Linked DNA regions of Homo sapiens: regions 1, 2, 3 and 4 are each linked to region 5. Evidence: fine-mapped expression QTL. A gene starts in region 5. Each other region holds a variant in brackets. All regions are shown on one strand. Distances are from middle to middle. Region 1 has its middle 43 kb from the start of CATSPERB. Region 2 overlaps TC2N (tandem C2 domains, nuclear). Region 3 overlaps FBLN5 (fibulin 5). Region 4 overlaps FBLN5 (fibulin 5). Region 5 holds the start of TC2N (tandem C2 domains, nuclear).

Region 1 (5,281 bases), 92 kb after region 5:
CTTCTGAACCCAGTCCTCTCCGCATTCTCTGGGATTTCGTTCCATTTATTATGCCCATTTTCTCCTATTTTTGAACCATTCCCACTCACTCTACTGGATTCTTTGTTTCATCTTTGAAACCTCTGGTGTGTGGCTGTATCAAAATTGGTTGGTGATGTGTTTGATGCAAAGAACCCTACGGATACAGTTTTGGGGGTTAGGTTTTTGTATTGATGAAGGAACCCGTGTAAACACCGATGGACTGAATGTTTATGTTCCCCCAAAATTCATATGTTGAAATGCTAACCCCAAAGATGATAGTATTAGGAGGTGGGACCTTTGGGAAAAGATTAGGTCGTTAAGGCATTGGTAATTAGGCTGTTAAGGGATTAGTGCCTTTATAAAAAAGACCCAAAGAAATCCCTTGCCCCTTCTACCAGCTAAGGTTACAGTGAACAGATGACTTTCTATGAGGAAGCAAGCCTTTACCCAAAACCAAATCTGCCGGCATCTTGATATTAGACTTCCCAACCTCCAGAACTGTGAGGAATAAATGTTCATTGTAAGCTACCTAGTTTATGGTATTTTGTTATATCAGCCTGAATGGACTAAGAAACGTTACATAAAGCAGGAGCCAATGCAGCATGCTCCCCATAGAGGTGTGTCTTCCGAGGTCCCCAAAGCTTTCCCTGGGTTGGACTGCTACGGGTGAGTCTATGCATAGCCAGTGAAGATTCTCAGCACCAGAAGCTCTTTTCATTCTCACAGGAGTTTCTTTCCTCACTTTCCTTCTTCCACCCGACTGTTCCCAAGCATAGCCTTCATGTCTGCTTGCTCAACAAGTGTTAGTAATTGGTAGTCTACAATCCCAACAAATTCTTGAGTAATTATTAGAATTTAAGTGTAACTAACTCAATGAATAGGAAGGTTGGTTTCTCAGCATAGCATCCGTTAGGTCACCTTTCTCTGTGGTTTCTTTCTTAAAAAAATATTCCTAGACTTCCTCTCCTGTTCTAGATTCTGCCTTATCTGTTCTCCTCTTTATAGATAATTTCTAACCGCTCTGTCCTTAGTCCATTCTCTTCAATCTTCCATCCTCACCACTCCACCAAAGTTCATGTTAAAGTCTTAATAAATGCTTTTCAGCTATTTTTTTTCCTTTATTCTCATCAACTTTCTTAACAATAGCTTTCTCTCTCTCTCTTTCTCTCTCTGTCTCTCCCTGCCTCTCTCCTTGAAACCGTCTCTTCCTCTGGCTTTCATGTCATTATGCTCTGCTTATTTTTTTAACAACCTTCCTAGTCTGTTCTTCTCTGTTCGGCTCATCTTCATGCACCTGACTTTAAAAAGTAGAAGTTCTTTAGGACTCAGTCATAGGCCACCTTTTCTTGTCATTCCACACTGTTTTCCAGGGCAACGTCATCTATTTCCATGGCTTGAAATGCTATCTACTGTCTAATTTACATCTCTACCCAAATCTTGCTATGAGTTCCACTGTCATATAGCTAATGTGGACATCTTTTCTTAAACGTGTTCTAAATCAAACTTTTGATTTCCCATTCCTACCACAAGTGTGATCTTCACTTTTCCCCATCTGAGTAAAAGGCACTGTCATCCACCTAGTTGGTCATCCCAGAAACCTATTCATTGAGTTAATTACACTTAAATTCTAATAATTATTTAGAAATTTGTTGGAATCATTTTCTACCAGTTACTAACACATGTAAATGGAAAAACTATTTCTCTTTCTGTATTCTGGTTGTGCTGGGGGGGGGGGGGGAAATTAAAACAAGAAAAGCTGTTTCTTTATTCTTACAATACTTCTGACACCAAATGTGTGGGCTTTTCCCACCAAGCAATTCTTTAATTCCCTGTGGACACCAACTGGGTGTTGTATAATTTACCTTAATTCCAACACTACCCAGAGTTAGCACAGACCCCACAAATTAAGGGCCCAGTTCCACAGACTGCCCCCCACTTCCTATGCCAATCATAAGTGGCAGGTCTCCAGGCTGCCCACAACTTTGGTCTTACTTGACTACAAATTGGAGCTTCTCATGACACCTCAGGTTTGATAATTTGCTAAAATTGTTCACAGAACTCAGGGAAACAGTTTATGTACATATGTCAGTTTTTTATAAAGGATTCAAATCAGGAACAGCCAAATGGAAGAGATGCATGGGGCAAGCCAGTGGGGAGGGATGTGGAAGTTCCCTGCCCACTCGGGGAGTGCCACCTTGCAGGCTCTTCGATATGCTTACCAACAATAAGCCCTCTGGACTTCAGTTAAGATTTTTATGAAGATGTCATTACATAGGCATGGTTGATTAAGTCATTAGCCATTGGTGGTTGAACTCAGTCTCTACCCACTCTCTCCTCCCCAGAGGTTGAGGGGGCTTGGGAGATGGACCTGAAAATTCCAACCCTCTTAACTATATTTTTGTTTTCCTGGCAACAAGACCCTCATTCTTGACGGCTTTCCAAAAGTCACCTCATTAACATAAACTGGGGTGTGTTTGAAAGGGGCTTGTTAGGAATGACACAAGATGCTACTTTCACCTTCA[T/C]CGCTCTGGAGCTATTTCAGGAGCCAGGGACAAAAACCAAATATAAGAAAAGATGCCTCATCACACTTATTGCTTAGGAAATTCCAAGGGTCTTAGGTGTGTTGATGGTACAGTGGTGAGCATAGCTGCCTTCTAAGGGTTTTAGGAGCTCTGTGCCAGGAGTCAACGACAAAGACCAAATCTATGTTATATCAATATCACACCTTGGAACTCTTCTCTTATCTCCCATACTCAAGTCACCCTGTTCAGAAATATATATATCCTAAATAGATCTTGAATGCACCCACTTCTCCATCTCCACTTCAACTTCTCTAATCAAAGGCAAAATCATATCCCACCTGTAGTACTGTACTTTCCTTATAATCTGATTGTCACACCTTGGTTCTCGGTGCTCTTAGTATGAAGTCCAAAATCCTTAACACAGCCTACAAGGCCCTTGTAGGGGATGACCCACTTTTCCTCTACCCTCTTATATTCAATGAATGGGGGTCTGTGAATCAAACTAACAAATGACATTAACAGGAGAAAAGACACCATTTTTATTAATGTTTACATGCATAAGTATTCACAGAAAAGTGAAACTCAAAGAGGTAATTAGATTAGGAGTTTATATACCCTTTTAATAAAGGAAAGGAGGTTTGGACTTTAAGAGATAAATTGTGGGGAAGTGACTAGGAAATACATGGGGGAACTAATGGAGGATAAGGGTTATTTTAGTTAGGTCTGTTTGTGCAAACTCATCTCGGTGTTGACTCTCCATCTCCGGTGATAAGTCACTCCTCTTCCTGGTCCACAGAGTATGGAGAACACCTTCACAAAGCATAATTTATGCCCTGCTTTTAGGCAGTTAAGGGGACGGCAAAGAACTCTTCTTACATCTGTTGACTCTCAGTTGCTTTCAGCTCAAAATCTTTATGCCAAAGTGGCATACTTTGAGGTGACATATCCTGATCCCCTTTCTCCTGTTGTGTTGTAAGGAATAATTATGTTACTTAAAATGGGTTGGGTTTTGTTTGTTTGTTTGTTTTTTTGATGATCGGTCAGATGTGGACATGTAATAATAACACCATGGAGAGGCATATGAAAATGAAGGAGATTTATTATATTGGCAGGTCCTAGAAGAGGGAGGTATGGCATGCCATGCAGGGGGCATGTGGGAGGAACTCCCAGGGAGTGAGCTCACCCAAGCAGGTGGGGAGCAGAGAGAGAGAGGGTCGGGGGAAGGACCTATGGACAAGGGCCTTTGTTGGTGGTCAGGGTACAGTATATAAGCAAAAAGCATGAGAGTGTTTCATTGGAGTGTTTGAATGTCACTAGATCACACTCAGAATAACAAAAAGGGGAACTTGTGGCAGGAACCAGCCTTCTCACACTGGTGCACCTGATTGCCCAGACATAGTGTTCATAGCCTGTTTGTGGGAATGTTGAGGCATCAAGAAAATAGGAAGTTTTAAAAATTTACAATATCCCTGTATAATCTGAGCTCTGCCTTCCACTCCAGCCTTATTTTTAACAATTCTCCTCTTTAATCTCACTGATCTGTTTTCAGTTCTTGGAAGACAGACAATACACACCTAGCTTCCTCTGGATCTTCACACATCCTGTTTCACCTATGTGGAATAGTTTCTCTCTTTACTCTTCCCTTTACTAAATCCTATTCTCTTTTTGAAGGTGCCAGCTTAAATATCTGTTCCTCAGAAAAGTCTCTTTTGATTTTTCAAGCAATATTAGGTCTTATTTTCATATACTTTATGCTTTTTCTTTATAGCTTTTATCAGAATTATGGTTAAATAGTTAACTTACGTAGTTGTCTCTCCTAGACTGTAATTTCCATGAAAGCAGGGTCTTGTTTATTGCTGCATTCCTGAACCTAGTACAGTATCTGGCCTATAAGAGGTACATAGTCAATGTTTGTTCATTTACACATTTAACCGATAGGCAATGTTTTGAGTGTTAGGGATTTAACAGTGAACCAACAAAAAAATGAATGAACACATAGAGTTAGGTTTTATGGCTCAGTAAAGTGGTAGTTAAGGCCAATATCTTCTTATTGAAAGAGATAATGCTGTATAATACATTATTACCATATTTACTTTAAAATTCATTAGTACATTTCTTAATCAGAGAAAAGAAATATAATAGCTTCATATCTAACTCATACTATCAAGCTTACAAAAAACTTCTGAAATTTTAAAGTGTTTATAACACATAATGCTAAATTTAGTAGATTGCTGAGATCTTTATCCGATTTTGCCTTATCATTACATGTTAGCAGCTTAATGTATATCATTACTAAGAACAAAAATTATATTTATTTATTTAAAACATTTATTTTTTGCAGGGAATGAGTTAAATTTGATTTCTGTATAAAGTAGGAACAATACTTAGATTGTGTCCAGCTTTGAAATTTTCTTATAAGATGTAACTAACATGTTTAAGTGACCCTACATAAACAAGTACTGTAGTTGTTGTCTACTGGCCTAAACAGGATTTATAAGACTTCTGTAGGAAAGAAGACGAGCGTAGAAAATCGGTTAGATGATAGTTCTACTCCTGGAGGGAGAGAATGAGAATTTTGGAGACCCTTCCTGATACAATTTAGGAAATGGATTCAGGGAAGAGGCTGTAAGAGAAGCAGGCCTCATCCCATGTACATCTCAGTACTCGGGACAGTTTCCTCTACCTCTCCTTATCCAGGAAGGACAGATAATAGGTCTGCAGATAAAGAAGGTGAAAAA
Region 2 (6,553 bases), 58 kb after region 5:
ATGCACTTTAACAGTAGTGTATTAATTGCTCAAATATCGTCTGGACAAAATTAATGTAGATTCCAGAAGTGTTTGGTAAGACCCAAGAGTAGTTTATGTGTCAGGAATTTCTTCTAAAATGGTTAAATAAATATCAAAGTATGCTAGGTTTAGATTATTATATGTAACCTATATTCATATTTGTGACTTTTTTTTTCTTTTATATGCAGTTTCTGTGGAAAGAGATTTTAAAGCAGCAGTCCCAAATAGTCAAAATGCTACTATCTCTGTACCTCCATTGACTTCTGTTTCTGTAAAGCCTCAGCTTGGCTGTACTGAGGATTATTTGCTTTCCAAATTACCATCTGATGGCAAAGAAGTACCATTTGTGGTGCCCAAGTTTAAGTTATCTTACATTCAACCCAGGACACAAGAAACTCCTTCACATCTGGAAGAACTTGAAGGTAAACAATAAAATAGCAGTATTTAAAAATCGATATGTAGCATTTAAGTGCTATTATTTTACTTTTATATTTTTAATACAAAATTCATATAAAATTTTTTTATTTTACTTTTTATATTTTGCTCTTTCTGTAGAAGAACTTAATGTACAGTAGTTTTGAAAGGTCCCATTTTGAAATCTGATCATAATACAATAATTTGTATGTAGAATTGGCCTTTTTTCAAGAAATAATATGTAATTGGCCCTCCATATCTTTGGGTTCCACATCTGTGGATTTAACCAACTGCACCTCAAAAATATTCAGAAAAAAAAAAAGAATGATTGCATCTGTACTGAACATGTGCAGACTTTTTTCTTGTCATTTTTTCCCTGAACAATACAATATGACAACTATCTCAGTAGCATTTACATTGCGTTAGGTATTATAAGTAATCAAGAGATGATTTAAAGCATATGGGAGGATGTGCATAGGTTATGTGCAAATACTACACCATTTATATAAGGGACTTGAGCATCCATGGATTTTGGTATCCATAGAGGGCTGGAACCAATCCCCCACATATACTGAGGGATAACTGTAATTAGAATACCTCAGTTATCCGTCACATGTCTAGAATGAAAAAGTAAAGGAGTTAGTAAATGTAGAAAACATGTTTCTTATTTATTAATTTCTAATATTTGGTTAGTAATCACTTTTCCTTCTCTTCTTTCTTCTACCAGGTTGTACTTCCCAGTCTAAATAGTTACTTGAATGAGGTAGATCCATTGGCAGAATTTGGCTGATGTAGAAGCCAAATTATTAGAGAGAAGATGAAACAACATGTAGCTCTTGTCTTGTTTTTTTAAAAAACAATTTGTATTAGTCCATTGAAACACTGTAAGTCACAATAGCTTTTTTACCCTCAAAATTTTATTAGAAAAATTTCAAACATACAGGAAAATAAAAAAAAAACTTAATAGTGAAGACCTGTATGTCCACCACATAAATTCTGCCATTAAGATTACTTACTATACTTGCTTTAGCAAATATCTGTCTACCTATCCATTCTTCTATCCATTATTAATCCACTTTTTGGAGAGGAATGAATTTCAGAGTAAATTGAAGACACCAATATATTTCCTTGCAAACACTTAAACATATATATCATTTACTGGGTTCAACGATCTCTTTACAGTTTTCTTCTTTTGGCATAAATTTTACACACAGTGAGCTGCCCAAGTGAGTATTTGTAGAATTTTGTGTGTATTTGTTGAATTTTAAGTGTATATTTGTTGAATATTGACAAAAGTATATGTCAGTGTAATCCAAATCTCTATCAAGATCTACAATATTTGTCCAAATATTTTTTGTCTTATCCCCTCTCTTTTCTGCTTCTGGGATTCCGATTATACCTATGTTGAACCTTTTGATATTGTTCTATGGGTCTCTGAGACTTTTTTTTTTCAAGTATCTTTTTTTCTCTGTTCTTTAGATTCAATAATATTGATCTTTTTTTCAAGTTCACTGTCTCGTCTGTTATCTTTAGCCTGCTGTTAAGCCTATTCATGAATTTTTTATTTTAGACATTGCATTTTTTAGTTCTAGAGTTTACATTTGGTTCTTTGTTATAGATTTCCTCTACTGCAATTTCTTATTTTTACAGTATTGCAAACCTATTTTCTTTTATGTTTTTAAGCTTTAAAATCTTTATCTGGTGATTTCAGCATCTTGATCATCTAGGTTTGGATTCTGTGGATTGTCTTTTTTCTTGAAAATAGATCACATTTTCCTGTTTCTTTGTATATGGAGTAATTTGGGGTTGTATTCTTGATATCAATATCAAAAATATTGAATGTTATGTTGTGGAGACTCTAGATTCAGTTACATTCTTCTGAAAAGGTTCCTTCTTTCCTCCCTTTCTCCCATCCTCCCTTCCTACTTCTCTTCTTTCATCCCTCCCTTCCTCCTTCCCTTTCTCCTTTCCCTCCTGATATGGTTTGGATGTTTGGCCCCGCCAAATTCATGTGATTCCCAATGTTGGAGGTGGGGCCTGGTGGGAGGTGTTTGGATCATGGGGGCAGATCCCTCATGTATGGCTTAGCACCATCTCCTTGGTGATAAGTGAGTTCTAGCTCTGAGTTCCTGTGAGATCTGGTTGTTTAAAAGAGCCTGGCACCTCCACTGCCCATCTCTTGCTCCTGCTGTTGCCGTGTGATGTGCCTGTTCTCTTTTTGCCTTCTGCCATGATTGTAAGCTTCCTGAGTCCCTGATTAGAAGCAGATGCTGGCACCATGCTTCCTGTACACACTACAAAACAGCAAGCAAATGAAACTGCTTTTCTTTATAAATTACCCATCCTCAGATATTCCTTTATAGTGGCACAAACAGACTAACACACCTTCCTTCCCTTCCTTCCTTTCTTTCTTCCTCCCTCCTACCAGACAAGTAAACTGGTTGGACTTAAACTACAGATTTTGTCTTGGGTGGCAGCTCTTGGGTGGTAGTTCAGAGATGAGACAGATATTTGAAAAGGCTTTATTTACAGAATTTGGGAATCTCTCCTTTCCAGGATTCCCACCTTACTTTCCTGCAGCTCTGATTTTCTTGAACTGTACCCTGTGGTTCTTCAGGCTAGAAAGACTGTGAGTTTTCTATTGGGGTTTTATATACCCTGCGTGTTGCCAACTTTGATGTGTACTCAGGCTAAAAGTCATTAAAAACAGATAACTCACTTTGTGCCATTACCTTTTTCCCCAGAATCAACTCCTGTCCAGATCTGTATTACTTTTCTTTACTCTTCATTGCCTTCAGGGTTTTTATTTTCTTGCTTTGTTTTAGTTTTGGTCTAGAGTTTATTGTTACCTACAAGAGAGTTGGGTCTGGTAGGAGTGATTTTTTAAATTTTAAATTAAAATTTGTTTTTTTGAGACAGAGTCTCACTCTGTTGCCCAGGCT[G/T]GAGTGCAGTGGCATGGTTTTGGCTTACTGCAGCCTCCATCTCCTGTGTTCAAACAATTCTCATGCCTCAGCCTCCTGAGTAACTAGGACTACAGGTGCACACCACCACACCCAGCTAGTTTTTGTATTTATAGAGATGGGGTTTCATCATGTTGGCCAGGCTGGTCTTGAACTCCTATTCTCAAGCATTCCACCCACCTTGGGCTCCCAAATTGCTGGGATTACAGACGTGAGCTACCATGCCTGGCCCAATTTTAATTTTTTAGAGAAAAGAAAAGATGAACCTAGTGCCTGGCCTATCATCTTACTTTGCGCATATCAATAGTGTTTCTCAAAAATAGTTTTAAAAAGTTCTGGCTTACAGAATACCCAATCAATTGATCTTTCTCTTTTTTTTTCATACTTATTAACAACATTGGGATTAAACCATGCAGCCTTGTAAGTTGTTTCATCCACATAATATGTTGTGAACATTTCATATTTGTTGCTTTTTGATGAATACATAGTATTTCTTCATATGGACATACTGTAATTTTTTTAATGAATTTTCTATTCTTAAATAATTTTGAGTTTTTACTCTATTATTTTCATAATCAGAAAAAAGGTAAGAAATATCCACCTGGAAATATGTGATAGTTTTTCTTATGTTCTTGACATTGTGCTCACTAGAAAACATTGCTTTTTGAGTTGAATGAGGAAGAAATTGGTTAACTCCTAAATTATAGGTTCACTGAAGAAGTGGTAAAACCATCTGATTTGTATATATTAAAGAGAAAATTACTTTTATTAGAGTCAAGAAAGTAAGGTGGTACCTAATTAAAGAAGTTAAATATGTGTATGTATGTATGCACGTGAATGATGGGTTGAGAAAAGAGAAGATTTTGAGTGAATAGAGCAGACTGCTATCAATAATGACTAAAATTGTGTTGCAAGCACAGTCAGGAATCATTTAACAATGGCGATATGTTCTGAGAAATGTTGTTGTTAAGCTATCTTATAATTGCATGGACAGTGTAGAGGCACTTACACAAACCTAGATGGTGTAGCCTACTAAACACTTAGGCTATATGGATACCATATTTCTCCTAGGCTACAAACCTATACAATATGTTACTATGCTGTATACTATACTAAATACAGTATTCAGTACAGTAAAAATATGGTATAAAAGTTAAAAGATGATACACCTTGTATTAGTCTGTTCTCACGCTGCTGATGAATACATACCTGAGACTGGGTAATTTATGATGAAAAAGAGGTTTAATGGAATCACAGTTCCATGTGGCTGGGAAGGCCTGACAATCATGGCAGAAGGTGAAAGGCATGTCTTACATGGCAGCAGGTAAGAGACAATGAGAGCCAAGCAAAAGGGGAAACCCCTTATAAAACCATCAGATCTGAGACTTATTCACTATCACAAGAACAGTATGGGAGAAACTGCCCCTATGATTCAATTATCTCCTACCAGGTGTCTCCCACAACATGTGGGAATTAGGGGAGCTACAATTCAAGATGAGATTTGGGTGGGGACACAGCCAAACCATACCATTCTGCCCCTGGCCCCTCCCAAGTCTCACATCCTCACATTTCAAAACCAATTATGCCTTCCCAACAGTCCCCCAAAGTCTTAACTCATTTCAGCATGAACTCAAAAGTCCACAATTCAAAGTCTCATCTGAGACAAAGCAAGTCCCTTCCGCCTATGAGCCTGCAAAATCAAAAGTTAATTACTTCCTAGATACAATAGGAGTATAGACATTGGATAAATACACCCATTCCAAATGGGATAAATTGGCTGAAATGAAGGGGCTAAGGGCCCCATGCAAGTCCACAATCCAGCAGGGCAGTCAAATCTTAAAGCTCCAGAATGATAACCTTTGACTCCATGTCTCGCATCCAGGTCATGCTAATGCAAGAGGTGGGTTACCATGGTCTTGGGCAGCTCCACCCCTGTGGCTTTGCAAGGTACAGCTTCCCTCCTAGCTGCTTTCACGGGCTGGTGTTGAGTATCTGTGGCTTTTCCAGGTGCACAATGCAAACTGTTGGTGGATCTACCATTCTGGGGTCTGGAGGATGGTGGCCTTCTTCTCACAGCTCTACTAGGCAGTGCCCCAGTGGAGACTCTGTGGGGGCTTCAACTCCACATTTCCCTTCCATACTGCCCTAGCAGAGGTTCTCCATGAGGGCCCCACCTCTGCAGCAAACGTTTGCCTGGACATCCAGGCATTTCCTTACATCCTCTGAAATCTAGGAGGAGGTTCCCAAACCTCAATTCTTGTGACTTCTATGCACCTGCAGGCTCAACCATGTGGAAGCTGCCAAGACTTGGGGCTTCCACCCTCTGAAGCCATGGCCCAAGCTGTACCTTGGCCCCTTTAGCCATTGCTAGAGCAACTGGGATGCAGGGCACCAAGTCCCTAGGCTGCACACAACAGGGGGGCCCTGGGCCTGGCCCATGAAACCACTTTTTCCTCCTGGACCTCTGGGCCTGTGATGGGAGGGCTTGCTGCAAAGGTCTCTGACATAGCCTGAAGACATTTTCCCATTGTCTTGATGATTAACATTTGGCTCCTTGTCACCTATGCAAATTTCTGCAGGTGGCTTGAATTTCTCCTCAGAAAATGTGTTTTTTTTTTCTATTGCATTGACAGTCTGCAAATTTTTCGAACTTTTATGCTCTCTTTTAAAACTGAATGCTTTTAACAGCAGCCAGGTCACCTCTTGAATGCTTTGCTGCTTAGAAATTTCTTCCACCAGATACCCTAAATCATCTCCCTCAAGTTCAAAGTTTCGGAAATCTCTACAGCAGGGGCAAAATGACACCAGTGTCTTTGCTAAAACATAGCAAGAGCCACTTTTACTGCAGTTCCCAACAAGTTCCTCATCTCTACCTGAGACCACCTTGGCCTGGATTTCATTGTCTATGTCATTATCAGCATTTTGGTCAAAGCCACTCAACAAGTCTCTAGGCAGTTCCTAACTTTCCCACATCTTCCTGTCTTCTTCTGAGCCCTCCAAACTGTTCCAACCTCTGCCTGTTACTCAGTTCCAAAGTTGCTTCCACATTTTTGGGTATCTTTACAGCAGCACCCCACTCCTGGTACCAGTTTACTATATTAGTCCATTTTCATGCTGCTGATGAAGACATACCTGAGTTTAGGTAATTTATAAAGAAA
Region 3 (5,272 bases), 23 kb before region 5:
CTGGCTAAACTCACCTTTCCCTTTCAAAATGCAAGTTCCATAGCCACACACTGTCTGTTCTGTGTACCACTGAAGATGCTGCTTTTGCAGAAAAATGAGGGGTCAGGGGGGCTGCCTTTTTTCCAAGGTACCCGTAGTGAAGGGTACCCTCTCCAGCCCCTGCTGCCTGCCTGGCCTTGGTGATGTGCCCAACTGCACTCTGGGAAGAAGTCAGGGCCAGCCACTGTACAGCCAATGGGCCCTCTATGCAAGAGCTGCTCTGCACTCAGGGGCAGTGCAGTGGCCAGGTTAGAAGTAGCCGGGACTTAGAGACAAAACAGAATCACAGGACAGGGCACAGAATCTGAGAAGGGCTGAACAATAGGTAAGGGATCAAGATGGATCTGGGAGGTGGAGTCCTTCCTGGCAGTAGGTAGAAACCAGGCACAAGGACTGAGGCTCTAAGCCGGCTTCCAGAGTCCTGGATGGCCCCTGGTTCCAAAGGAACAGGGGGACCAGGGAGGAAACCTGGTTAGATTGGGGGAGGTGGGGATAAGGACCAGTTCCAGCTACAGTCAGATCAACTGGTCACAGCAGGAGCCTGTATTGGTGCCATCTCAGACTCTGCCAGGAGGCCGGTGATTTCATTCACTACCCTTACCCCACAGGAATGAATTCTCCAGCCCATTATCACATCAGCTTGGGGTGTTGAGAAGTGCTTTCCCAATGACATCAGGCTCCCCATTGATGGATACATATTACAGGGAGGTCACATTGCCCAGCTCTGCTCAAAGGATCCATTCACCCACAGTGCCGCCGCTTTCCCTGGCAAGGCCAGCTGTGGCTTGGAAGAGATGTGTTTATCCAGAGTTTTATGTTCACTCTGGTGCAAGGAGGAGATTCAGGGTGAATTCCAGTGCCCTCATGTTACTGGATTCATGGGTCTCCAGGGTCATGCTGCCCAGCTCATCCCAGCCTAACTGGCTCTTGTTCCTGACAGCTGGACATATTCATTGTTCATGGAGCTGGCAAGGAGCCTATTGGAGTGATGCTATGGATTCTTCTTACGTGTTAAGAAGAATCCTGGGCAGTGGAGCCTCTATATGGAATCTTTGAGTTGAATCTTAACATTGGATAAATCTTAAGAGCTGGGTAATCTCAAATCTTAGAGCTGGGAAAAATTGGAGAGTCCATCTTGGATAAACCTTAGTGTTGAATCTTAGAGCTGGGTAAAATTGGAGAGCTCATTTTGCCCAACATCCCAATCGAAGCAGAAATTTCTTCTGCAACTTTTAGGATAGGTTCAGGTATTTATGGGACTGAGATGGGTCGAGGAGGGGAAAGATTGTGGGGAGATTGAGCCTTGTATTCGAGACAGCATCACCATCCGTGACACTCAGTAGGCACTGTCTTGGCTCCTGTTCCCATTTGCTTCCGTTCATGATCCTGTTTGGGAAGAGCAAGGCAATCATGCCATGCTAGTGGGGGCATCATTGAGTGAGGAGACCTGTCTCACTTTGCTTGCATTTCTGTTTCCAGACATTGATGAATGTCGCTATGGTTACTGCCAGCAGCTCTGTGCGAATGTTCCTGGATCCTATTCTTGTACATGCAACCCTGGTTTTACCCTCAATGAGGATGGAAGGTCTTGCCAAGGTATGTGACGTGCATGATAACTTGGACATGATGTGAGACACTAGCTGCAGCCTTCTTCAGCACCTGGCAGCTTATGTTTGTGGGAAATACTGCTGCTACAGTATATTCCCATTCCTTGCCACTGCCCGCCCATCCCCATTACTACAGAAACGTGAGACCTGAACCTTGCTATGCGAAGCATCTCAAAAAGTGCTCTGAATATGGCTGAGGGTAGGACCCCAATCCTCCACTGGCTGGGAGTGTACAGTTTCATGGATTCGCTTCTTTTCTGTGTCTGCTATCCAGAAGTAGCCTTGCTGGCTTTCTTGCCTAATCAGAAATTTGGTTGCATGTCCTGTAGCCTAAGTTCAGTTCCTGAGGCCTGAGGAGGGTTGGTCAGGGTCCCTGGCCCTCCAAGAATCATAAAATAAACACATCCATGCTAGGCAGGGGTGTCGTGGGCGATTCTGAGGTCTCTTGCTATACTTTTCCCTCCAACCTGTGCCAGGATGGCCTGTTCCTCAGCAAAGGGTCTGGTGGTGGTGGTAACATCCCCTGCTACTCAGCGTGCCCCCACAAAACCAGACTGAAACAAAGGCATTTTGTGGTTTTCACATGATCATTTGAAATACTGATAAG[T/C]AAGAAAAACAAGTTGCATGCCTATTGTGGTTTCCATCTGAAGGTTTCTTCTGCTCAGGAAGTGAATGGGGGACTTAAGACCCAAGGAATTAGCGCAAATCCTGCTTTGGCCCCCGACTTCCCCCTCAAATTCCAGCTCCCGGCCCAGGCCTCCAGCCCCTGGCAGCTGCTTGGCCCAGGTTGGAGTTGGAGGCAGTGCTGCAGACGCAGAATGAGGTCTTTGTCTGGAGACCTCAGGCTTTGCAGGGCCCATTTCCTTGTTTCATTCACCCTTGGAGTTCTGGCTGGCAGGCTCCTGGCCATTGAGTTTGGAGGCTATTAGGTCTCCTTTACTTTAATTGTATCTAAATCATCGGTAAATAGGAAGGCATCAGTGTTAAAGAGTTTGACCCTGGATTCTTTCTAAGTCTCTCCTCCAAAGCTTGTTCTGCTAATTGTTCCAAGAATTCTGGACTGTGTTCCTCACGCCAAAAGAGGTCATTTTCTTCTGAGAGTAGACACCAGGCCAGGAGGTTGAGGAAGCGGATAAACAAGGGCCCTTCCTTCCCACTGGAGCAGGAGGGGGCGCCTGGCTCCCTTGCTGCTGTGATAAGCAGCTTAGGGCAGATGCAGGCTTCTCTGTGCCAAGGCCTGGGATTGGAGGTGCCAGCCACAGGCTGGCACCGTGCCCCCAGTACCTCCTGAGGCATAGCCATGCCCAAGCCAAAAGGTGCCTGCGTCTTTCAGGCCTCTGAGGGACAGGTGTGTGACAAAGAGCAGATAATACACCTGGCAGTGCCAAGTCCACAGCATAATAAAGCAGCAGGCCCGGCACCCAGGCCTGGGTATGGGCACTCAGCCACTGGGATGCTGCATCAGCAGGGCCCATGGGCAGCACAGGGCGTCGCATACTCCGGTGAGCTTTTGCAATCCTGACTCTTCGTGTGTGGAAGAGTGCTGTACACGCTAGAGCATTGTCACGTCTGTTCATCTCACTGAACCCAAATAATAAATAGCCTCTTGAGGTCAGCAGGCAGGTGTTTGTGGCTCTGCTTCACTGAGGAAATAAAGGCTCAAAAAGGTTAAGCAACTTGGCCAAAGTCACACAGCCACGTGGTAGCAGATCTGAGAGTAAAACCAGGGGCCCAGACTTCTTGTCCAACAGGTTGGAGTGGGGCCCTGTGTGCCCTCAGCAGATTCAGAAGGGCATTTGGAAAGGGCTGGCAGGAAAGGGCAGTGAGAACCCCAGGGGGGCAGAATCATTTTGGTCGCCCTGCTCTTCAGAAGCAGCTGAGAGCGGTGAGGGGGTGGAATGAGTTCATTCACCTCCGAGTGGCCAGCGCCTGGCCAGAGGCTGAGGCCACCAGCCCTAACACTTGCCGGCACTGTCCTGTCTGAACTTGCACTCAGTGGCTTAGCACAGTGGACATTTTCCTACCCCCTCCTGTCCCCGGTGGGGAAACCCCAACCTCCCACGGGCACTGGTGGGGGCCAGTGTCTTGCTAGACCCTCTCTCTACAGCTGTTCATTTATTTGTTTTCTCCCTGAGAGCTCCAGAGATGCTAGGAGGCAGGAACTTTGTGGCCATGGGATTAGCCTCCCCTGTAAGAAAAGCCTCTCAGTCTGCTCACCGTGAAGGCTTTTAGCTCTGAAAACACTGACATCTCTTTTCAGAGGCCTAAGAGGTTTACATGGACTTGGGAAGAGGATAGAAAATCTCTCAGTTGGAACTTTGGCCATTGGTGTATGGAGCATTGTGGGATGGTGCTTACAATGGGTCAACCAATGCCAGTGGGAAAGAGACTCTTCCCTGCCCTCCCCGCACGATGAGCTGTGCAGAATGAATCTTGGTTTTTGTGGAAAAACCCCTGACTCATGTTCCAGTTCCCACTGTGTGTCCTTGTTAGCTGGTGGACTTGGGTACACCTCTCAATCTTCAAAAACAATTATATGTATATGTGTGTGTGTCTGTGTGTGTGTGTATATATATATATATGTATTTTTTTTTTTTTTTTGAGACAGAGTCTAGCTCTGTCAACCAGGCTGGAGTGCAGTGGCGTGATCTCAGCTCACTGCAACCTCTGCCTCTGGGGTTCAAGCGATTCCCTTGTCTCAGCCTCCCAAGTAGCTGTGATTACAGGCACCTGTTACCATGCCTGGCTAATTTTTTTGTATTTTTTTAGTAGAGACGGGACTTCACCATGTTGGTCAGGCTGGTCTCGAATGCCTGATCTCAGGTAATCCACCTGCCTTGGCCTCCCAAAGTGCTGGGATTGCAGGTGTGAGCCACTGCACCCAGCCTATAATTTTATTTTATTTTTTTTTGAGACAGGGTCTCACTCTGTCACCCAGGCTGGAGTACAGTAGCATGATCTCAGCTCACTGCAGCCTCAATCTCCCAGGCTCAAGTGATTCTCCCTCCTCAGCCTCCCGGGTAGCTGGGACCTCAGGCGTGTGCCACATCACCTGGCTAATTTTTAAATTTTTTGAAGAGATGGGGTCCCACTATGTTGCCCAGGTTGGTCTCAAACTCCTGGGCTCAAGCGATCCACCTGCCTCAGCCTCCCAAAGTGCTGGGATTACAGGCATGAGCCACTATGCCTGGTCCTTCAAAAATGCTTAAACAATCTTATTGATGCATAGTCAGTGTATAATAAACTGCACCATGATTTTATTAATTTTGACATACGTGTACCCGCATGAAACCACCACCACCACACTCAAGATAATGGATTTCCCATTAGTCCTTGTGTCCCTTGGTGGTCTTCTCCTTAACCTACTTAACCTCTAAAGTGGGCCAATGGTCCTCGTTGTAAGGATCAAGTGAGTGCAGGATCCTTCCCTAATGAGCAAAGTTATTTATGCATAATAAATATATTATTAGAATCATCATGGTTATTTGTTAACCTGAAACTTCCAAGTCAGTGAGGGTGAGGGGTGTTCACTGATGGAATGCAACCGGTGATGGAAGGAGCAGGTATTGCCTGGAAATTCCTGGTTGGGGGGGTGCGTTGGAGCATAGACTTACCAGCAGGTGTAT
Region 4 (6,132 bases), 54 kb before region 5:
CTGGTCTCAAACTCCTGAGCTCAGGCAATCCGCCCACCTCTGCCTCCCAAAGTGTTGGGATTACAGGCGTGAGCCACCACACGCGGTCTCACCATAGTATTTTTCTAGTGCCTGATAAATATTTGTTAAATAAGCAGAAAAGCTACATGAGTGAATTATATATGTGGGATTCAAATGAGAAAGAGAAATGGATTATATATTAGGTACAGTTTCTACATAGGTTAACTTATGACCACTGATGGAATTCATTTATCCATTTACCATTTATGTGTTGAGGTCTGAGCTGTGCATGTAAAGATTAACCCATTTATGCCTGATGTTGCAATTTTTAAAATTTTTGCAATCAGACCTTGGTGATGACCTTGAACAGGAGAATATAAATAACTCCCACATGCTTAGCGTTCCAATAATGGAACACTAGGCATAATTTATCAGATATCATCACCCCCTGGCGAGTTCACAGCCTCTTGGCGGGAGTCGGGTGGTTTGGCAGGAAATATGAAACCCAAATAATTTTATGTAGCCCAGTGAAATGGGATGGCAACGAACGTAGGTATGGGACACTTTGTTGGCTCTGGCTGGAGTGGTCACAGAAGCTTTCCTAAAGACAGGGTTGCATATCTGTGCGTCCATTTGATTAAACAATATTGACTGATCACTTTTCTGTGTCAGACACTGCCAAGGGCTAGGAGGGTCTAAGGATGAACGAGATGCTGTCCCTGCCCTCAGGATCTCTCTGCTGAGTGGGTGTGAGTGGGGGTTTTGGAGGGGGGTGTACATAACTCATCAGATTCTCTTCATGAGCCAGTGTCAGATGTGACTGATGAGAGCAATATGTCCCAGGTGCTATGGGAGTGCCCACGAGGAATGTGAATGCATATGGTGGCCTTTAGCAAGTCTTTGCAGGATTGAATAGGATTTCCATGTCAGAGACGAGGAAGGGCAGTCAGGGTTAGGGAACAGCATGGGCAGAGACATGGAGACAAGAAAGTTCACTGCATGTTGAGCAGTCTTGGTCATGAGTCAACCGGTCACCTGCACACTTATGACACCCAGTGTGGCTGCAGCATGGACACATGTTGTGGGCAGGGCAGGCACAGAATAAGAGATGAGGCTTAGAAGGTTGGCACTCAAGATTCCCCACCAGATTGTGGGGCCTTGAATTCCATGCAGTTGACTTGGGCTTTATTCTGTGAACACTGGTTTTTGAGCAGGGGAGTGAAATGTTTACAAGCCTATTTGGAGATTTCTGCTTAGCCTAGTCTTAGCACTGCCACAAGCTCATTGGGTGGTTGTGCTCCAGTTCCTTCTCTTTCTGGGGCTTCAGTTCACATCTGCATGAGAGGGGCTGGGCCATTATCTGTGAGGCTTCCTCCAGCCTTGACCACTCAGGATGCAAAGATGCTTATGACAACCAGGTGAAGGGTGGCTTCTGGAGACAGGCAGCTTTCGGAGATGGTATCTTCTCATTTGAGGCATTGATTTTGCATGTAGTCTAAGCTGTAGGGGCTAATTACTGGGTCACCTCATAATTACATCACCTCCATGTTCTCAGGGTCCTGGTCAAAGTCTCCTTTAGGCTTAAAACAGGGATGAGCCCTCTGCCGAGACCCCTGAAAAAGGGGCATCAGTGGATGGATGAAATTGGCTCTCACTGTGATGATAGGGCCTGGCCTGGTCCTGTGAGAAATCTGACACTGCCTTTATAATTCCTGGGGGAAGTTTGCAAGCAGCTGGAGCAAAACACAAGCTCCTTAGGAAGCCAAGAATCCTCCCAGATTGACCAACAAGGTAGAGATGTAAGCGATCCCACCATCAGACGTCTCTGGAAAATCCCACCTCAGACCTCAGACCTCCTCAACAGATCCTTTTTCCAGGATTGTCTCAATCTCATTTCTCTCCAGAGAGCAGACAGTGGCTGGGGGCCAGGTGGCACTGGCCTGT[G/A]GTCTGTTGTGGTCTCCACTTCTCCCCATGGAGGCTGGGTCCTGCGGTTACTGCCATGAGTCCTTTCATTGTAGTAATTCCCACTGGAACACTGCTTCTCGCTTTTCCAAATGCTTTCGTGTCCACCAGCTCATGGAATTCTCAAAATAGCCCAGGGAGGAAGGCAGGCCTAGGAATGTTCTTCCCTTCATTTTATTTATTTATTTATTTATTTATTTATTTATTTATTTATTTACTTTATTATTATTATTATTTTTGAGACAGAGTCTTGCTCTGTCACCCAGGCTGGAGTGCAGTGGTGCGATCTCGGCTCACTGCAATTTCCGCCTCCTGGGTTCAAGCGATTCTCATGCCTCAGCCTCCTGAGTAACTGGGATTACAGGCACCTGCCACCAGGCCCAGCTAATTTTTGTATTTTTAGTAGAAATGGGGTTTTGCCATGTTGGCCGTGTTCAAATTCCTGACCTCAGGTGATCCGCCCGCCTTGGCCTCCCAAAGTGCTGGGACTACAGGCCACCGCGCCTGTCTGCCCCTTCATTTTAGAGAATATGTGGAAGGGCTCCATGACTGTCCCACATCCCAGAGTTTGCTTGTGATTTAGGCTGACCAGCATGTGGGCCCGCCAGCTTTAGGCCCTTTTAGGCCATCCCACGACGTGCCCTGGTTGGTCATAGGCACCATGCCAGCTCCTTTCTCTACCCCAAATATACCAGGCCCTTCTGGACCTCAGGGCCTTCACACTTTCTCTTCCTTCTATTTGGAACTCTCTCCTGGCTCTTCACATTGCGGGCTCATTCTCCTCTCTGGCTTCAGCTCAGTTCAGATGGCACCCCTTAGAGAGTCCTACTCAGGCTGCCTTGTCTGAAATTACACCGCAGTTACTCCCAATCACAGCCTTATCATTTTCCAGCACAGTCTTCAGCGTGCATTAAATCCACCGGAGGCCTTCAAACACAGATTGCTGCCGAGTTTCTGACTCAGTAGGTCTGGGGTGGGGTCTTTTCTTCTGAGTGATGCTGACGCTGCTGGCCCGGGGGCTGCACTTTGAGAGCCACTGATTGGTGGCTTTTTATGTATTTGTTTGTTGATTTTCCCATCCCTTAGCTGTAAACTTCAAGAGGGGAAGAAACGTTGCCTTGTAACCTGCTGCATCCCCACTGCCTGGCCCATAGTTGGTGCTTGCTAAGTACCTGTTAGCTGGCTATTGGCTGAAGGCTCAGCTGGAACCTCTTGCTTCATAATCAATCGTCTTGCACCTGAGAGGGAAGAAGGACAAGCATTGGCAGAAACTCTGGGAGCTACTTGGTCTCAGCTCTTCTCTGCTTTACTACCTTTTTCTTTAACTTTTTCATGCTTGAGCCTTTTCTAAGGGTCATTATTAATTTTGGGTAAAGATTACATGGATAATTTTCATAAAATCCCAGGTGACGGATTTTACTTTCTGGGTTCAGAATTCCAACGAAGCCGCAGGACATCTGGGTAAGAGAATTAAAATGTCGTGACTGGCTTGCATAGAACACCTCGTAGAATTCCCAATGTGGTACTTTCAGAACCCTCTGTGTCTCAGGCCTACTAGCCTTTGGCTTCAGAAGAACAAAGTTGAAATTTTGCCAGATTGGAGTTGGGTTTTAACCATGAAATGTTATCTATCTTCCCTGACAAAGAGGAGTTGAAGACCAGTTCTAATGATAGATCCCCTGAAGATATTGCTTTGGCCAAGGGAGTGCTGAGGGTAGGCTTGGGCTGACCTGGTCCATACTTCGTGCTACCATTGGGGGCCACAGGCAATGGAGTATGTGGGTTGGAGGCTTGCCAGGAGGAGGGTTGGCAACTCCTGCATAAACCACCACAAGGCTGCTATGGACTGAGAATCGTGGGAACAGCTGATTCTGCCCAAGGGGGTTGAGGAAGTCTTTACCAAGGAGGGACATTTATAGTTTGGTTGAGAAATCTGGAGGATAGGTATGTGATATGACAGGATTTGTCCAAGATCACCTGGCAGGCCATTGGCAGCGCTGAATAAAGCCCAAAGTCTCTGGTTTCTTAATCTCCAAAAATCATGAGTTGTGCAAAGAGATCAGATTCAGCAGCTGAATGACCTTGAGCAAGTCACTTCTCCGTGGTTGAAGGATGATCTTTAAGATTCGTTTAGATAATTCATTCATTTCGAGACACTGGGGATAGTAAGTGACCAGTCCTCTTTGTAAATCATACAGCCCTATTCTTTCCATATTCAAGCTCAATAAATAGTTGTACATTGAATGAATTTGACTGCTAGCATCATCTCTTTCCAAAGACAGAAAATATGGGGCAGGAGACCCTGGTGCATTAGCAGGCAGACAAGCCACAAATGGGTTAATAAAATAGAGTCATTAAGACAACAGGAGATAGTGCAACTTGGCTTTTGACTCTGAGGAGGAGGGAAGGCTTGCCAGGATTGCATTCCAGCACAGCCTACTGACCGTGGGGAAGAGTGTGTGGGACTCCAAGTCAAGCCCCAAGAGCCACACGCACGCTAATAAGTTCTAGTCAACAAGAACTCTGAAACCAGACAGGGGAGGGAGAAGGACAAGGCAGTCTACTTCCCTCTGGAAGCTTGGGAGGTGCTCAGGGCCAGGGGGAAAGCCCACACAATGTACTAGTTTGCTAAGGTGGCCATAACAGAGTACCACAGACTGGGCAGCTTAAACAACAGAAATGTATTGTCTCCTCGTTCTGCTGGCCAGAAGTCTGGGATCACAATGTTGGCAGAGTTGGCTCCTTTTGAGGGCTGCAAGGGAAGGATCTGTTCCTTGTCTTTCTAATTGGCTTATAGCTGGCCCTGTGTCTTTCCTTTCCTTTACTTGACTTTGTCTTTCCTCTGTGGGTGTTTGTGTCTCAGTTTCCTCTTCTTAGGAGGACACTAGACATTTTGGAGTAGGGCCCGCTATAACGGGCTCATTTTAACTGAATTACCTCTTTGAAGACCCTGTCCCCAATTGCAGTCACATTCTGAGGTACTGGGGGTTAGGACTTGAATATATGAATTTTGGAGGGACACGATTCACCCTATAACACAGGACACAGCCCTCTTCCTCCAGTGGGGACCCTTTTGAGGTCAGAGACCCCTGGTAATCCTTCCTTCCTTCCTTCCTTCCTTCCTTCCTTCCTTCCTTCCTTTCTTTCTTTCTTTTCTTTTCTTTTCTTTTCTTTTCTTTTCTTTTTTTTTTTCTTTTTTTTGAGACAGAGTCTTGCTCTGTCACCCAGGTTAGAGTTCAGTGGTGTGATCTCGGCTGACTGCAACCTCTACCTCCCAAGTTCACATCATTTTCCTGCCTCAGCCACCCAAGTAGCTGGGATTACAGGTGCATGCCACCATGCCCAGCTAATTTTTGTATTTTTACTAGAGGCAGGGTTTCACCATGTTGGCCTGGCTGACCTCGAACTCCTGGGCTCAAGTGATCCACCCATCTTGGCCTCCCAAAGTGCTGGGATTACACGCATGAGCCACAGTGCCCGGCTGCCATTCTTTTTTCTTATCCTTAATGACCTTAATCTGTGATTTCTTCCCAGAGGCCTTCTTAGATCTTTACTGATCTCATCCCAAGCCCATTGGAACCTCCTCTTCTCTGAGTTCCCAAAACACTGTGCTTGTGCCTCTGTTGGGACATTTCTCACCATCTACCTTAGACTTAGGAATGTGCTTGTGCCACTTACTCATTAAAGCTTCGTGTCCTGTTATCTTTATGTCTCTTTCATATCCCCTATCTCCTGTCTTGCAGATAGAACAGGGTCAATAATGTTTGCTGGCTTGTTGATAGGTCAGCTGTCCAAGAAAGTTGGGTAATAAGTGCTGGATAAACAGGAAGATGAGGTTGTTAGAAAACAGCAACAGCAACATGCCTTTCCTTAGATTTTGTGCACTCGTAGACAAAGTCAAGCTACTGGATTTATAAAGAAAAGATGCTCTTTCCATCCTTCCATCCTTGTTTGGCCCCAGTAGGTCAACAGAAGAATCTACAAACTGGGTGCTCAGCATTCTTAAGCCCCCAGAGTTCAAATCGAATTCCTCTTTTGGCCAGTCTTGGAGAGACTCTTCAATCATATCTTAAATAATGGCATTCTTTTGGCTCAGCTCTATGGATACTCCTCCTTCCGCCCCCAGTCCCCTGACCTTCTGCCCTCTTGTTTCTTGGCTGAAAATCTGGG
Region 5 (5,000 bases):
CTGGAGCCTCCGACGCTGCCTCTCATTGGCACCAAGGGACAGGAGAAGAGAGGAAATAACAGAGAGAATGAGAGCGACACAGACGTTAGGCATTTCCTGCTGAACGTTTCCCCGAAGAGTCAGCCCCGACTTCCTGACTCTCACCTGTACTATTGCAGACCTGTCACCCTGCAGGACTTGCCACCCCCAGTTCCTATGACACAGTTATCAAAAAGTATTATCATTGCTCCCCTGATAGAAGATTGTTGGTGAATTTTCAAGGCCTTCAGTTTATTTCCACTATTTTCAAAGAAAATAGATTAGGTTTGCGGGGGTCTGAGTCTATGTTCAAAGACTGTGAACAGCTTGCTGTCACTTCTTCACCTCTTCCACTCCTTCTCTCACTGTGTTACTGCTTTGCAAAGACCCGGGAGCTGGCGGGGAACCCTGGGAGTAGCTAGTTTGCTTTTTGCGTACACAGAGAAGGCTATGTAAACAAACCACAGCAGGATCGAAGGGTTTTTAGAGAATGTGTTTCAAAACCATGCCTGGTATTTTCAACCATAAAAGAAGTTTCAGTTGTCCTTAAATTTGTATAACGGTTTAATTCTGTCTTGTTCATTTTGAGTATTTTTAAAAAATATGTCGTAGAATTCCTTCGAAAGGCCTTCAGACACATGCTATGTTCTGTCTTCCCAAACCCAGTCTCCTCTCCATTTTAGCCCAGTGTTTTCTTTGAGGACCCCTTAATCTTGCTTTCTTTAGAATTTTTACCCAATTGGATTGGAATGCAGAGGTCTCCAAACTGATTAAATATTTGAAGAGAGCTTGTGTTTGGTTCATTTTGACATCATAGACGAGTCAGCCTTTGGGGTTCTAGTTCTGTTTAAACCTGTTTATTGTGCGCTGGCTTAGAAAGCTCTCCAGAGAGCTAGGGCATTATCTGTGACTCTGGCAAATTGATGGGAGGGGGGCGGTGGGGCAGAGAAATAGGGGTCGTGGGGAAGTTAGGGGGAGGCATCATCCCTGAGTCCTGTTTCATCTGATTAGAAAACAACCAACAATCCTTCTCTTACGTAGATTATTTCCGGTGCTCCTGCAGAACAGGAATGTATTCAAGTTACTTTAAACCAGTGGCCTTCAACCCTGGCTGCATAGACGGATAACCAGTAGAACTTTGGAGGAAAGATTGATTCCCCGGGACATGCCCCCAGACACTCTGATGTCATTGGGCTTAGGTAGGGCCCGGCCATCAGGATTTTTGAAAACTTGACTATGTAGCCAGAGTTGAGAATGTATTGTTATAAACCCTAGAAAGAGAGGTGGACAGATGGGGCTGGAGCCCTAGCTGCCTTGCCCTCAATGTCTTTTCTGCTCATTGTAGGATACATTATTCTTTTCCTGGTCAGGGCCTCTGGACATCCTTCAAGTCTTAGAACCCTGTGCAGGGGCCAAGAGAGTCAACATTGCAAGTCACAGGAGAACAGGTTGGGATGGCTGTCTTTATGTGCCATCCCAGGAATCAACCCAAGGCTTCAGGAAAAAAGTGCACTCCCTGATAGCTGAGGTGGAGTCTACAGATCCATCTGAGGGTGCTCCCATCCTACCTGTTGGTGAGGTATTCATTAAGGACCCCCACAGTGCCTATCAGGAGTTGTGTCCTGGACCCCTAGTCTTAGTAGGCATTCCACAGATCCTTGTGATATGGACAGGAGACAGGGAAATACTGGGTAGAAGAGGGTGGTTCCCTGGCAAAGGCCCCACCCTCAAGCCTGGGTACCCATGGCCCTAAATGAGGACAGCCATTCCTGTTTTCATCCCTAAAAAGTTGCCTTTTGGCCTGCCATGTCCCCTATCCTGTACCCATATAAACCCTGAACCCCAGGCTCCAGGCTCCAGAAGCAGACGGGGAGACAAGAAGATGAGCAGACATGAATGGCAGAAAAGCACGGCAAAGAAGGAGAGAAGAGAAGGAACATTGGGAGGAATTCGACTGGAGACGATCTGAAAACTGGCCACTGGATGGCCAAACTCCAGGGGAAGATCATCTTCCCACTCCATCCCCTGTCCAGCTCCCCATCCATCCTACTTAGAGCCACCTCCACCACTCAATAAAACCCCTGCATTCATCCTGCAAATCCATGTGTGACCTGATCCCTCCGGGATGCTGGACAAGAGCTCGGGATACAGGAAACTGTCACACTGGCCCTCTGCCCTGGCAAAAAGGGAGAGGGTCCACTAAGCTGGTTAACGCTTAAGCTGTCCACGGATGGCAAGGCTGAAAGACTGCACTGTTTCAGTGCCTACTCGGGCTTTGGAAGTCACAGACACCGACCCCGGGATGCTGTCATGGGGCTGGGGCCCAAAAGTGCTCACCCTGGTTCCTGCACCTGCCTGTCTGCGTGCTCCCCTTCCCATAAGGGGTTTTAGCTTGGGGTGGCTGAAGAGAGAGCCACACCCCTGTTGCACATCCTGTGAGGGGGCCAGGGAATTCTCCTGTTCCACTTAGTAGTATCTTAGGCCTTCAGTGGAAGGAAACAGCATGTTCCACGCCCTGTAGCATCCAAGAAGCTGCAAGTCCTCCCTCCTCACCCCAAGAGCATTTCTCACACCCACACCACACACCTCACTTTGCTGTTGGCTGTGGTTATTTTTTTCTCTAACTAAGCACATCTAAACCATGCCTAGTTGTGGTTCTTCAGTCAGGGTCAAGTGGTGTTAGCAATCACATCAGCACCAAATGGCTCAGGATGCTCTGGTTTCAAAGCTTATAAAACAGAGGGTGATTCCCTTGGGACTCACTCAGCTCGGCTCCGAAAAGCAAAGGCCAGAAGGCAGCAGTGAGCCTGGGTCCCTGCTGTGTAGGGAGACTCAGGGGCTGGGAAGAAGGATGGAATCAGAAATGCTGAAGGTTTACGTGAGCTTTGCACCGAGCGCCTCCGAACCACTGCCTCTGGGCTCAACAGAACACAGGGGTAAGTCTCCATGAACTTCTCAAAAAGAAAACTGGGAAGCTTTCTGTCTTGATGATTTGAGGACCCACTGGTTTCAGAGGTGCCACATTTGGAACCAGATCCGAGTCTTTAAGGTTTGTGTTTTATTTGTTCATGTCAAAATGTGGCTTCCTGCTTCTAAGAAAAGAAACTCAGGCTCATAAAAGCAGCCTCCAAGGGCTTCTTGGACCTCAAATTGCGCTTTCAAAATGTGGTCTGATGGGTTCAGTGTAAATGCACCAGAGGCATGTGGGATCCATTTACCTTAAAATACACTTGGGCCTAAAAATTAAGAGAAAAACAGTCCAGGGCAAAGTGTATACTGCAAAGTCAAGCTCCAAACATTTGGGAAACAGTTCTAGAGGCTGCTGGAACCCCAAATGCTACTTGCTTTACCTACCCCTTGGGAATCATCAAATGTTATTTTTTGTACAAGACTGGGGATGAGCCTGCTCTCTGATCCCAGTGCTGTGCTCTGCTGTGCAGTTCTAATGGGGCAGGCTGTTTCCTGGACCCTGAGATCTCCAGGCTCCCTGTGCCTATTCCTTGTCAGCTTTGCCCCATCCAGGAGCTGGGCTGAGCTTGTCAAGTGACCTCTGCTTTGTACCACTCCATCAGGTCCTGAAGAATGAAGGGTACCAAGGTGGAAGGGGCGCAGGATTAAGAGTAGGGACGCCTGCAAAAGCTCTCGTGTTACCACCTCATCTTCCAACTTTCATGTGGGTGAAAACGTTCATCCTAAATAATTGCTTCTAATTCTGAAGTTTTGTGATTCCTTGAAATGTACTTTGGGGATGACAGCCAGCATTTCCATTTCACTGCAATTTCAGAGTTTTGCAGTGGTTTGCCAATCATAACACTTTCTAATTGGCACAAAATCCACCTACCTGTTGCCTCTCAGGCTTGGGTAACATACTTCAGACACTTTCTTAGGTAAGTCTTGGCCCTTGGGGTGTTATTTGCCCAGATGGTAAAAACATTTAAGTAGGTCTGATTATTTCATTTTCAGTGGTTTCAACGCATTTTTGTGGCCTGGGTGGTTACTGTAATGTGCCCAAGTTGTTCATTCTGAGCCAACGGGGTCACCCACAGAGAGAAGACTTGACAAAGGAACTCTCCTCTACTCCCCTCTTGCCAGATGAAATATTGTTTGTAAAAGGTCTTTGTCTTGAGAGGATCACATACTTTGGTTAAGAATCCACTTTGGTTAAGCCGGTTGCTGGATTCAGAGACATGAACAGGATAGACAGTCCACCGATAACTTTATAATAACACCTTTTTAATAACACCTTTAATAACTTTTTAATAACTTTAAAAGTTATTAAAACTTTATAAAAAGTTAATCTAAAACTTTAATAACTTTTTAATAACACCTTTAGCCAGGGGTTTATGCAGCATACACGACAAAACTGGAATATAATGTGGTAGGTGCAGTAGCAGGGTCCACAAAATTATTTTAGTTAGATTTTAAAAATTATTAAGACATCTGTTTTATACAAGAAAAATTCTTATGAAAATTTATAGACATGTGTTTGAAATTTAGAATAAGTTGCCTCTGCTTAGAATTATTAAGTATTTTGAAAGGAAACACTAATAAATGCTAGATAAACTTTTTCTTTTTGATACAATTTGTGTTTACTTTAAATGCAATATTTTTTTATCTGAAAAAAAACGTGAGCACTTAGCAAATCTCTTCATTATTTTGGAATTGGCCAATGCTTATAAACTACAAACAAATATACAGATTGTTCCTTGTGCTGATATTTTTGTTTTCAAATTTCTTAGTCCTGTTACTTAACAAATGGCTGATATCTTTGTTGGAATCCCTGAACATAGCTAAAAGATGTTTTTTTAAAAAAAAAAAAAAAAAAAAACCAAGAGGCTCCAAGACAAAGGAGTGCACAGAGGCAAAATTTATCACTTTGGTAGCTTTTGCGGGGATGAAAGCCTCCAGTTAGAATGTTTGACTTACTAATGGTTCTTAATAATGAATCTTAGCCAGCAGCCATCAGAGAAATAAATCATTAA

The links. PIP is the estimated chance that this variant, and not a neighbour inherited with it, causes the effect.
Region 1: its variant is the best candidate, but not a certain one, in a credible set for the expression of TC2N in whole blood (INTERVAL, PIP 0.81).
Region 2: its variant is the best candidate, but not a certain one, in a credible set for the expression of TC2N in monocytes after Pam3CSK4 (Quach 2016, PIP 0.88).
Region 3: its variant is the best candidate, but not a certain one, in a credible set for the expression of TC2N in whole blood (TOPMed, PIP 0.78).
Region 4: its variant is the best candidate, but not a certain one, in a credible set for the expression of TC2N in whole blood (INTERVAL, PIP 0.73).

What each region holds. Positions count from the first base shown.
Region 1 is chr14:91,772,924-91,778,204 of GRCh38, reverse strand. No RefSeq gene overlaps it. Among named protein-coding and RNA genes, the nearest start is that of CATSPERB, 43 kb to the right of the region's middle. The variant T/C (reference allele first, on the strand shown) is at 2,544.
Region 2 is chr14:91,806,202-91,812,754 of GRCh38, reverse strand. TC2N (tandem C2 domains, nuclear) reads left to right here. Exons shown (of 12, transcript NM_001128596.3): 3 at 210-443. Among named protein-coding and RNA genes, the nearest start is that of TC2N, 58 kb to the left of the region's middle. The variant G/T (reference allele first, on the strand shown) is at 3,378.
Region 3 is chr14:91,887,584-91,892,855 of GRCh38, reverse strand. It overlaps FBLN5 (fibulin 5), which reads left to right. Exons shown (of 11, transcript NM_006329.4): 6 at 1,519-1,635. Among named protein-coding and RNA genes, the nearest start is that of TC2N, 23 kb to the right of the region's middle. The variant T/C (reference allele first, on the strand shown) is at 2,254.
Region 4 is chr14:91,918,362-91,924,493 of GRCh38, reverse strand. All of the region lies in intron 4 of FBLN5 (fibulin 5), which reads left to right. Among named protein-coding and RNA genes, the nearest start is that of FBLN5, 26 kb to the left of the region's middle. The variant G/A (reference allele first, on the strand shown) is at 1,945.
Region 5 is chr14:91,865,216-91,870,215 of GRCh38, reverse strand. It overlaps TC2N (tandem C2 domains, nuclear), which reads left to right and starts at 2,680. Exons shown (of 12, transcript NM_001128596.3): 1 at 2,680-2,954. It overlaps FBLN5 (fibulin 5), which reads left to right. Exons shown (of 11, transcript NM_006329.4): 11 at 1-805. RefSeq lists an enhancer at 2,465-2,514.